Linked DNA regions of Homo sapiens: region 2 is linked to region 1. Evidence: fine-mapped expression QTL. Tissue or cell type: whole blood. Region 1 holds a variant in brackets; the other region holds the start of a gene. All regions are shown on one strand. Distances are between the middles of the regions.

Region 1 (5,147 bases):
TTCTTTAGCTCTCCTTTCACGGTGACCCCAGACGCCCTACCAACAGCCATTACATGGGAGCACATTCCGTTTGCAAAGCTGGCGGGTCTAATTGCAGGGCCTTTGGTGGAGATGTGCAGGCAGAGGCTAAGCAAAGAGTTTGAGGCCTTGAAAGGGGAATTCAGGGACCTCGGGCACTGTCTTCCAGGAGCCCAGTAAGCTCCTCCACCCCCACCCAGGCAAACACCGGCTTCCAGTTCCCTGCAAATGGCACCTCTCTTGGAGCAAGGAGACACCCCCAAAGTGCTGGAGAGCGAAGAACGGGAAGGGGGTTGGGTCTTGGCTGACGGATTGCCTTAGAAGACTTCATGTTATTGAATAACGTGAATACTGTGATGATGGCCAATTCCAGGTGCGCATGAAGATCGTGAAAATAACAGCTATTTCCAGTGTTTACATCTACTTAATATTCTCGTGCTCAGAGCTAACGAGGCTGGCGTTAGGCGGTGACGTGGGCCTGTTTGAAGGATGCTGGAAGTCGCGGGCCTAGGTTGCATGGTGTGTGTCTGGGCTGCCTCCCAAACCGAGGTATGTGGCCCAGATCTGGCTAATGGACAGTTTCACCCAAGCTCTGTCCTGTTTCCAGCTGACAGCTGCTACCTGCAGGTGCTGCTCGAGTCTGTCTCTGGTTCACCATAAGCCAAGGTTGGGTCTTCTCCCCCAAGGGCTCCTCCATTCCCTGAGACCTCCCTGTCTGGGGGTCCTGGCAGCATGCTATGGGAGGAGTCCTCCAGACATTTCCCTCACCCTCACCCCTCATACCCCTGACTCACCAAACCCTCTAGCCCTCTGGCTTTGTTGTTCTGCAAAATCCAACATTTCCTTTTCCTACCCCCGCCCAACCTGCCTAAGTTCAGATGTCCCCACTCCTCACCTCCATCATAAGGTAAGAACCTGAATTTGTTTTCCCACTTCCTTTTGGGCCTCACTCTTCTCCAAGTTCCCCAGTCACCTCCAGAATGACTTCTGAACATGCAACCCTCAGGAGTCTCTCCGCCCTCCCCACTTTCCCCAACCCTGCAGTCAGCACCCCAGGGCTCTGGAGGCTGTACAGGTATGAGATGCAAAGGGCCTGTGGTTTAGGTGTGAGTGTGGTATGGGGGTGTGGAGGCAGCCCCGTCTGGCATGGCTGTGAGGGGGCAGTGGAAGACAGGCTGTCTGTGCTCCCATGATGGTCTGGGGCCCCCCTGGTCAGCCCACATGGCCCTGTGGGGGCTCCTGCTGCTACAGGGTGCTGGGCTGGGCGGAGGAAGAGCTGGCCATTCAGGATGGGCGCAGTGGCTCATGCCTGTAATCCCAGCACTTTGGGAGGCCCAGGCAGGTGGATTGCTTGAGCCCAGGAGTTCAAGACCAGCCTGGGCAACATAGTAAAACCCCGTCTTTACTGAAAACACAAAATTTAGCCAGGTGTGGTGGCGCACGCCTGCTACTCTGGAGGCTGAGGCATGAGAATCGCTTGAACCAGGAGGTGGAGGTTGCAGTGAGCCAAAACCATGCCACTGCACTCCAGCCTGGGCAACAGAGTGAGACGCGGTCTCAAAAAAAGAAGAAAGAAAGAAAGAAAGAAAGAAAGAAAGAAAGAAAGAAAGAAAGAAAGAAAGAAAGAAAGAAAGAAAGAAAGAAAGAAAGAAAGAAAGAAAGAAAGAAAGAAAGAAAGAAAGAAAGAAAGAAAGAAAGAAAGAGAAAGAAAGAAAGAAAGAAAGAAAGAAAGAAAGAAAGAAAGAAAGAAAGAAAGAAAGAAAGAAAGAAAGAAAGAAAGAAAGAGCCGGCCATTCAGAAGGGAGCAGAAAGGGGCTCTTGGACAGGTATCCAGGGGAGGTGATGTCCCCACAGCCAGCCACTGACAAGCCCAAGATTGGCATCCATACTCAGGTTTGGTGTCTTTTTTTAAGAGATGGGATCTCACTATGTTGCCCAGACTCAACATGGGAGCTCAAACTCCTGGGCTCAAGCAATCCTCCTGCCCCAGCCTCCCGAGTAGCTGGGATTCCATGTGTGCACCACCACGCCAGTATTATGCTCAAGTTTGACCCCTCAAAGAAGCTGGTGTAATCCTCAGGCCAGAGCCTTCCAGAGCTTCTCTTGCCCCAGCCCTTGGCTGGACCTGACTCCAGCTTCAAGGCCCTGCCCTGGGAGATTCACCCCAGCTCTGAAATGTAGACTGCAGCTATCCAGACCCTCGGCAGGGAAGAGCCGGACTGACGGCCAGAGCCCCTGAGTGCTCCGGGCAGTCTCTGGCCTTGTCCCTGCAACCTGTGAATTGCCAGAGTCTCTGTTCTGTTCTGGTGGGGTGGGGTGGGGGGGCACACAGGATGACCCCTCAGCTGCAGCTGCCCCTCGGTGTTCCCTGAGATGCCAGAGAGAAGACACTGGAGATGTTGGTGTAGGGGTGGGGGTGGGCCTGGAACTGTAGCTGCCCATTCACTGTGCTTGAGTCAGGGCCGTCACCCAGACTCCGGGACCCCTGTGGGTACAGTCAGTGACCATCAGTGCTCAGCCGTCTGGGAGCTCTTCCAAGGATCAGAGCACCCATCCCTGAGCCCCTAGGCAGCCCTTTGCAGTCTGGAGCCCCACTCTCCCCAGGGTGTCTGCAGAGCCCCACCCAGGCCAGAGCGGCCTGCAGTGGGGGTCACTTCAAAGAAGCATCACTTAAGACAGATTCACTTTTGTGGCTCTTTAGGGTATCACAGCAACAGCTGTGACAGGCTTGACAGCTCCAGGCCAGCTCGGTAATTGACGTGGCAGCCAGAACAATGCATCCCAAGGCCGGCTGGAGCTGGACCGATCATTTTCTTGCAGCTGGGCCACAGTGGTAATGAGGCTGCCGTCCTGGCTGCCTGACTCCATTCCAGGGTGAAGAAGGACATGCTGCCCACGTCTGCCCCTGGAGGGCCTGTCTCAGGGCTGGGCCAGTGGGTAGGGAGCACTTTTCCTGTAAACAGGCATGTGTCAGCACATTCTTGCACTGCTATAAATAAATACCTGAGACTGGGCAGTTTATAAAGAAAAGAGGTTTCATTGGCTCACGGCTCTGCAGGCTGGACAGGAAGTGTGGCCCCAGCATCCACTTGGTTTCTTGGCGGGGGGGGG[C/T]GGTGCTCAAAGAGCTTTTACTCATGGCAGCGGGCAAGCGGGAGTGTGCGTGTCACCTGGTGAAAGCAGGAACAAAGGGTGAGACTTGGGGGCAGGCGGTGCCACACTTCACAACAACCAGATCTCATGAGAATTCATTCACTATTACAGGGATGGCACCAAGCCATGAAGGATCCCCCCATGAGCCAAACACCCCCCACCAGGACCCACCCCCAACACTGGGGATCACACTTCAACATGAGATTTGGGCGGGGACGAATGTCCAAACTACATCAAGACAGCCCCTTTATGGGGCCACCCCAGCCTCGGGCTCCAGCCTGACTCACTTGCTTCTATTTGCTGGTAACCCCACAATGGGAATTCACCATTATTTAGACCAAATGAGGTGCCTTCCTGCAGAGCTGGCTGCAGAGTGGTCACCACGTGCCATGTCAGCCAGACAAGAGGAGGCGTTGACATCCGTCCCATTTAACCCACCAGGCATGGTGCTGTGAGGTCACGGCTGCTGAGAGCCTGGGGTGGGATCCCGGTGGGCCCAGAAAATGGCAGCCTCCAGGCCCAGGCCCACTGCCTCTACCCCTCTTTCCCTGAGAAGTGCTGGTATCATGCCCCCACTGGCCCAGAAGAGCCACAGGTGGCTGAATGAGCTCCCACAGGCACGTCTGCCCCCCGCACCTCTGACCAGCCACCCCTGATCCCCTAATTCCCTCTCCTCCAACTGCCCTCTGGATGTCTGCACTTGGGAGACCTGTAGTCAGGTCTCCTCAAAGTCCACAGGGATCTGTCCTCCTGCGCAGGGAATAGCATCAGCATTCACCACTGCTAAAGTCAGAAGCCAGCGTCTCCCTCTGCAGTCAGCCAGTCCCAGGTCCTGCTGATGTAGTGGCGAGTTCAGGCCAACTTGTCCTGGCCCCCAAGGGCCCAGCCCCACATGACATCAGTAGTTTGAAATCTGCCATGATGGGATTTCAGACCACGGAAATCAGCAAACACTGCAAACCAGGCTGCTCCCCGCTCCCACCCCATCACCCAGAAAGTCAGGTGTTCAACATTTCCCAGCACACCTCCATCTCCCGAAATGTTCTTCAACTCTCCCTCCACTGTTTCATCATCCCCTGGGTCCAGGCCTCAAGAGTCTCCTGCCTGGATAGTGACAGCAATCCCCTGACCAACCTTTCTGCTGTATCTTTGACTCCATCTCAGAATGGTCCTTAAATTCAAAATAACTCCACACCCTAAAGCTCTTTGAGACTCTCCTGGGCCTTAGGAGGTAAGGTCTAGTGTCTTTGCATGGCTATAAAGCCTCTTTCTTGCCGGCCAGCCATCATGGTTGCCCTTCCTTCCTTCCCTCCTTCCTTCCCTCCCTTCCTCCCTTCTTCCTTCCTTTCTCTTTTCTTTTCTTTTGAGACAGGATCTCACTCTGTCACCCAGGCTGGAGTGCAGTGGTGCAATCATAGCTCACTGCAGCCTCTAACGCTTGGACTCAACTGATCCTCCCACCTTAGCCTTCTGAGCAGCTGGGACTACAGGTGCCCATCACTGTGCCCAGGCTAATTTTTTCATTTTTTTTTAGAGATGGGGTCTCACTATGTTGTCCAGGCTGGTCTTAAACTTCTGGCCTCAAGTAATCCATCCATCTTGGCCTCCAAAGCACTGGGATTAAAGGTGTAAACCACTGTACCTGGCCCTGCCTTTTCTTGACACTCTTCAGTCTCTGGACCCATCTCTTCATCCCAGGAGCCTTGCTTTCATGGTGGAAGGCCATGAAGCTCTGCCAGAAATGTCCTCATTACCCTCAGGTGCCAATTTATTGTCACGATCTTCAGGAGCTGTCACCTGCAACACTGAGCTAGCTAACATGTCAACTGTCCCACATTGCCTGCAAAGTCCTCCATGGCTGCCATCACACATGGAGTTGCTGGCCAGTGCCTCTCCTCCTTGCTAGACTGGAAGCTTCATGAGGGCAGGGGCCACACTATCCCATTCCTGGTTAAGACACTGTCATCAGTACCTAAGAT
Region 2 (5,147 bases), 670 kb after region 1:
CTCACTATGTTGCCTAGGCTGGGCTCAAGCTGTCCTTCCCCGTCGGCCTCCCAAAGTGCAGGGATCACAGTTGTGAGCCACCGCACCTAGCCAAAAGCTATGTATATCACATGAACCATGTAGATTAATATAGATTTTCAACATCAGATAGCTAGACAGTTATAATGAACACTTGCTGAAATTTTTGTTTATTTTTAAAGTATATTTTCCTGCCACTTTAAATTAATTTTGCTTTTTTGTTATCAATATTCACTTATTATAGGATAGACTGTGATTCTGTTATAGCTGAAAGCAGTAAGCACTGTTTTTGCTTTACCTAATTACTTTTTCAGCTTATAAGGTAAAATCATTCCTTTTAGTAACATCAGTCTCATAACTCTTTTTGCTGGAAGCCTGAATATGTGGTATTTTTCAGGTCTTTCTGTGGAATTTGGAACAATTCTAGTTTACACATGTGAGAAGAGTTGCTGGCCCCCAAATCATCAGACTCCCATGGAAGAATTTTGTATTATACAAGAAGACCCAGATGAATTATTGTTTAAGTAGAGCATTTCCTTTTATTAATATAAATTAAAACAAATGTTTACATCCAAATATGTTTGTATGTACCTTATTTTAACTCACAAGTTATTAACCTCTGTTTTTCTGAGTTGCCTTTTTGCCTTTGGGTGCTGGTGCCGGGGCCGGGGCCGGGCCAGGACCTCCTGACTGTGGGTTGGTCTGCCCTTCCAGGGTCCAGGGCCAGCTGTCACAGTGGCAGCTAGGAAGGTAGCTCCTCTCTAGTCCAGAGGGCTGGTGTTGTCTGCACAGCCGTTCTGGTGGGCATTCTAGGGGGGAGGAGAGCAGCGAAAGAGCCAAGAGCAGTGGTCAGCCTCTTGTGTACACCTCTGACACGTGCACTCCAGTGCTTCCTATGCTGTTTCTGGCACCTGATCAAGCCACTGAACCTGCTCTAGCTGCTGGAGGTTTTTGCTCTGTGACCCTGGCTGTTTAGACCTGCCCATGTTCATCAGCCCAGGTCCCCGCCCTCACCCACTCCCATCTTCTGCTCCTGCAGTATCCCAGGAAGGGGTCTTTACTCCGTTCTGGAGACTGTCCCTTTATCCAGCTGCCTTCCAGTCTTCCCCTTTCTTTATTTTTAACATGATCAACCCCTTCCCTTCAGCCCCATAACAGCAGTATAAAAACACTCCCAGCCATGTTCAGACATGCTCTGCCTACGTAGATGAGGATAATGAGGCCTAGGTGATCATGGGGTGGGCTTGTTTCTTGCATTTAACATTATATTTGGAGCATTTTCCCATTAATATTTTTCCCACAACATAATTTATAATTGCTCTATTTTTTAAATATACATCAAAAGCTTTATACAATTTTTAGCCACTTGTATTTTCCAATTTTTATTCCCATGATGGCCATCCCTGTAACTAAATTTATATATATTTTAAATCAATGATAACTGCTACAGGACAGTTTCCTAGAATTGGAATGAATGAGTCAAAAGTTGTGCACAATTTTAGGGTTTTTTTTTCTTTTTTTTCGAGACAGGGTCTTGCTCTGTCTCTCAGGCTGGAGTGCAGTGGTAAGGGCATAGCTCACTGCAGCCTCGACCTCTCAGGCTTAAGTGATCCTCCTGCCTCAGCCTCCTGAGTAGCTGGGACTACAGGTGCAAGCCACCACGCCCTCTAGAGAAGCTTTGCTTTGGAATCTTTACCTGGAGTGTGTTGGAGTGCTTGTTTCCCAATCCCTTGATAAGTGTTACTTATTTTTTCTTTCTACCAGTTTAGTAGGTGAAAAACTTTTTTTTTTTTTTGAGACAGAGTCTCGCTGTATTGCTCAGGCTGGAGTGCAGTGGTGCAACCTCCGCCTCCTGGGTTCAAGCAATTCTCCTGCCTCAGCCTCCTGAGTAGCTGGGGCTACAGGCTTGTGCCACCACCCCCAGCTGTTTCGGTGTTTTTTTTTGTTTGTTTGTTTGTTTGTTTTTTTGAGACGGAGTCTGTTGCCCAGGCTGGAGTGCAGTGGCGCGATCTCGGCTCACTGCAACCTCTGCCTCCTGGGTTCAAACGATTCTCCTGCCTCAGCCTCCCGAGTAGCTGGGATTACAGGCGCACGCCACCACGCCCGGCTAATTTTTGTATTTTTAGTAGAGATGGGGGTTTCACCATGTTAGTCAGGCTGGTTTCAGAACTCCTGACCTCGTGATCCACCCGCCTCGGCCTCCCAAAGTGCTGGGATTACAGGCGTAAGCCACCGCGCCCGGCAGGTGAAAATCTTACCATTTTGCATGGTTTACATTTTTTTCTTTTTTGAGACGGAGTCTTGCTCTGTTACCCAGCCTGGAGTGAAGTGGTGCGATCTTGGTTCACTGCAACCTCCACCTCCAGGGTTCAAGCGATTCTTTTATGGTTTACATTTTAATACGCTTATTGATCATATTGTCCAATTTTTTGTGAGTTTCCTGTTCACATCCTTTGCCTATATTTTTTTGGGGGTGACACTTGTTAATTTGTAAGAGCTCTTTACGTATAGGGACATCAGTTTTCTAACCTGTAAGGAAGTCTTGGCTGGGAGTTGAAACCCCAGGCTAGAAGGCGACCCTTAGACTTTTTAGGTCTGATGGCGGGCCTATGCTGGTGTGGGAATAACACCGCCGGTCTCAGCTGGAGGTCGCCAGCCCTTTGCAAGAGCCTGCCGGTCCCCGCGGGCTGCAGCACACCCCGGCGCGATGTGCCCTGCCTGTGTCTGCCGGAGGCTGTAGTGCGCAGGAGCGGAAACCAGGCCGCCCTTCCCCCACCCGCTTCCGGCCGCGGCTCGGTTCTCCCGCCTCCGCCTCCGCCGCGGCTCGTGGTTGTCCCGCCATGGCACTGTCGCGGGGGCTGCCCCGGGAGCTGGCTGAGGCGGTGGCCGGGGGCCGGGTGCTGGTGGTGGGGGCGGGCGGCATCGGCTGCGAGCTCCTCAAGAATCTCGTGCTCACCGGTTTCTCCCACATCGACCTGGTGAGGGCCGGGCGCGCGCGCGTGAATGGCGGGCTGTGGTGCGGGGGCTGGGATTCGGGGGTTCCGGGGCTCCAGGGGCTCTGAGGCTCAGGGCCCGGAGCCCGGGACCGGAGTTGCGGAGCGGGGGCAGGCTGAGAGGCTCGGGTTGTGCCCCCCCCGCGGGAGGAGACTGTTCTTTGGGCACGGGGCGGGCCTCCGCTCGCTGGGCCGGCTCCGGACGCCGAGGAGGCCGCGGGCCCCCGCCTCCCCGGCAGCGCCAATGTGTGGCGCTTCGTGGGCGTGAAGCCGCCTCTTATCCTCCCTTCAAAACAAATTCCCGGCTGTTAGGAGATGCGGGAGAGGATTGAGTCCCTCGCGGATGTTGTGACTTTAATTTTGAGGTCCCTGTCGTAACTCCGAAGTAACGACGCGGGGCGGAGGATGGCAATGATAGCGACCAACGCGTCCCGAGCGCTGGTCACGAGCGGGTTTACACACGGAACGCGCACCATCTTCATACCACCCGAGGAGTGCAAACGCTATTTCCACCCTGCTTTATTTTTAACAGATGAGGAAAGGGAGACGCAATGGGGTTGAGTAACTTACCCTGGGTCACGGAGCGAGTGGCAGGGCTCCCGCAGGCTGCGTGACTGTCATTGCTCTCACAGTAGACGGTACACTCGCTTGTTTCATTAAAGACGTTAGGACTGTGCCTTTTGCATTGGTGTACGTTGACAAGCCAGTGCTATTTTGAATCGTTATTTCTACTAATGCAAACTTTTTAGAGATTGGAGATGTTACTGGCCCTTCGGTGTGAGTTTAAAGTGTCTTAAGGGCTAGTGGAAACATGGAATGAACAAAAAAGTACGGGTGGCCGACTGAGTCATTGTTTCTTTCCTTTATGTATTATATATTTAAGCAAAAATTAGATAAAACTTAAAACATGATACTTTTTTAACCATGTGTAAAAGTTTCCTTTCACAGTTCTCAGGTTAATAGTAAATGAAATTGTGTATGGATGAAGGCTTGAATTAAGGGAGGCAGCAAAAATTCAATAAACGTTTGCCATGTATCATTTAAGAAAAAGAACAGAACCTGGGCAACATAGAGAAACCCCGTCTCTACAAAAAAAGAAAATTAGCGGGGCGTGGTGGTGTGCGCCTGTGGTCCCAGCTACCCGGGAGGCTGTGTCAGGAGGATCGCTTGAGCCTGGGAGGTCGAGGCTGCAGTGAGCTGTGTTTGCACCACTGCACTCCAGCCTGGGCAACAGAGGGAGACCCTGTCTCAAAAAACAAAGAAAAAGAACAGGGCATAGTTAAATTTAATATTTTGTACTTGAAAGAGTAATTCGATTGAAAGAGAAATACTTTAGTATTTTTTGAGACAGGGTCTGGCCCTGTCACCCTGGCTAGAGTGCAGTGGCCCGATCTCGGCTCACTGCAACCTCCGCCTCCCAGGCTCCAGTGATCCTCCACCTCAGCCTCCCGAGTAGCTGTGACTACAGGCATGTGCCACCTAATTTTATTTTTTCTATTTCTTGTAGCCACCAGGGTCTCACTATTTTGCTTAGGCTGGTCTTGAAGGTCTGGGCTCAAGCGATTCTCTCACTTTGTCCTCCCAAAGTGTTGGGATTACAGGTATGAGCCACCACTCCCGGTGTAGAGAAATATGTTAATATATTTTCAGTTAGTGTTTACCTCGACAGCACATATAGTTTTAATGAATTCACATATTTTTATGGCATCCAGGGAGTTTCCTGAAATATTTTCCAGGATGATTAAACAAACAAAATATACCATTCTTTCAAAGTATTTTTGAGAAGTTTATCTCTGACATTAAATCTAGATTCTTACATGCATTAAATTATTCTTTATCAGTTTAACAATTTTGGTATGGCGATTCGAAAAACGCTTTCTCCACTAATGTAGCAGATATCAAAAGTTCTGGATTACAGGTGCTGAGAGTAGTGATACAGCTCAAACATACGTAAACGTTTGTCATTTATCTGGGGTTTATGCATTTGTAGATTGATCTGGATACTATTGATGTAAGCAACCTCAACAGACAGTTTTTGTTTCAAAAGAAACATGTTGGAAGATCAAAGGCACAGGTAACTATATTTCTCATACCATTTCTATAACTTGATGGAGCTTCTATTTGTGATACCAGATT

Evidence for each region. PIP is the estimated chance that this variant, and not a neighbour inherited with it, causes the effect.
Region 2: it holds the start of UBA2, and the variant in region 1 is fine-mapped to the expression of UBA2 in whole blood (INTERVAL, PIP 0.93).

What each region holds. Positions count from the first base shown.
Region 1 is chr19:33,755,803-33,760,949 of GRCh38, forward strand. All of the region lies in intron 3 of CHST8 (carbohydrate sulfotransferase 8), which reads left to right. Among named protein-coding and RNA genes, the nearest start is that of KCTD15, 38 kb to the right of the region's middle. The variant C/T (reference allele first, on the strand shown) is at 3,130.
Region 2 is chr19:34,425,575-34,430,721 of GRCh38, forward strand. It overlaps UBA2 (ubiquitin like modifier activating enzyme 2), which reads left to right and starts at 2,807. Exons shown (of 17, transcript NM_005499.3): 1 at 2,807-2,996; 2 at 5,002-5,085. The coding sequence starts at 2,859. It overlaps PDCD2L (programmed cell death 2 like), which reads left to right. Exons shown (of 7, transcript NM_032346.2): 7 at 416-594. The coding sequence ends at 546. It overlaps LOC124904695 (a long non-coding RNA gene), which reads right to left and starts at 2,790. Exons shown (of 2, transcript XR_007067232.1): 1 at 2,548-2,790; 2 at 532-827. RefSeq lists silencers at 2,695-2,934, 2,965-3,074, 3,145-3,304.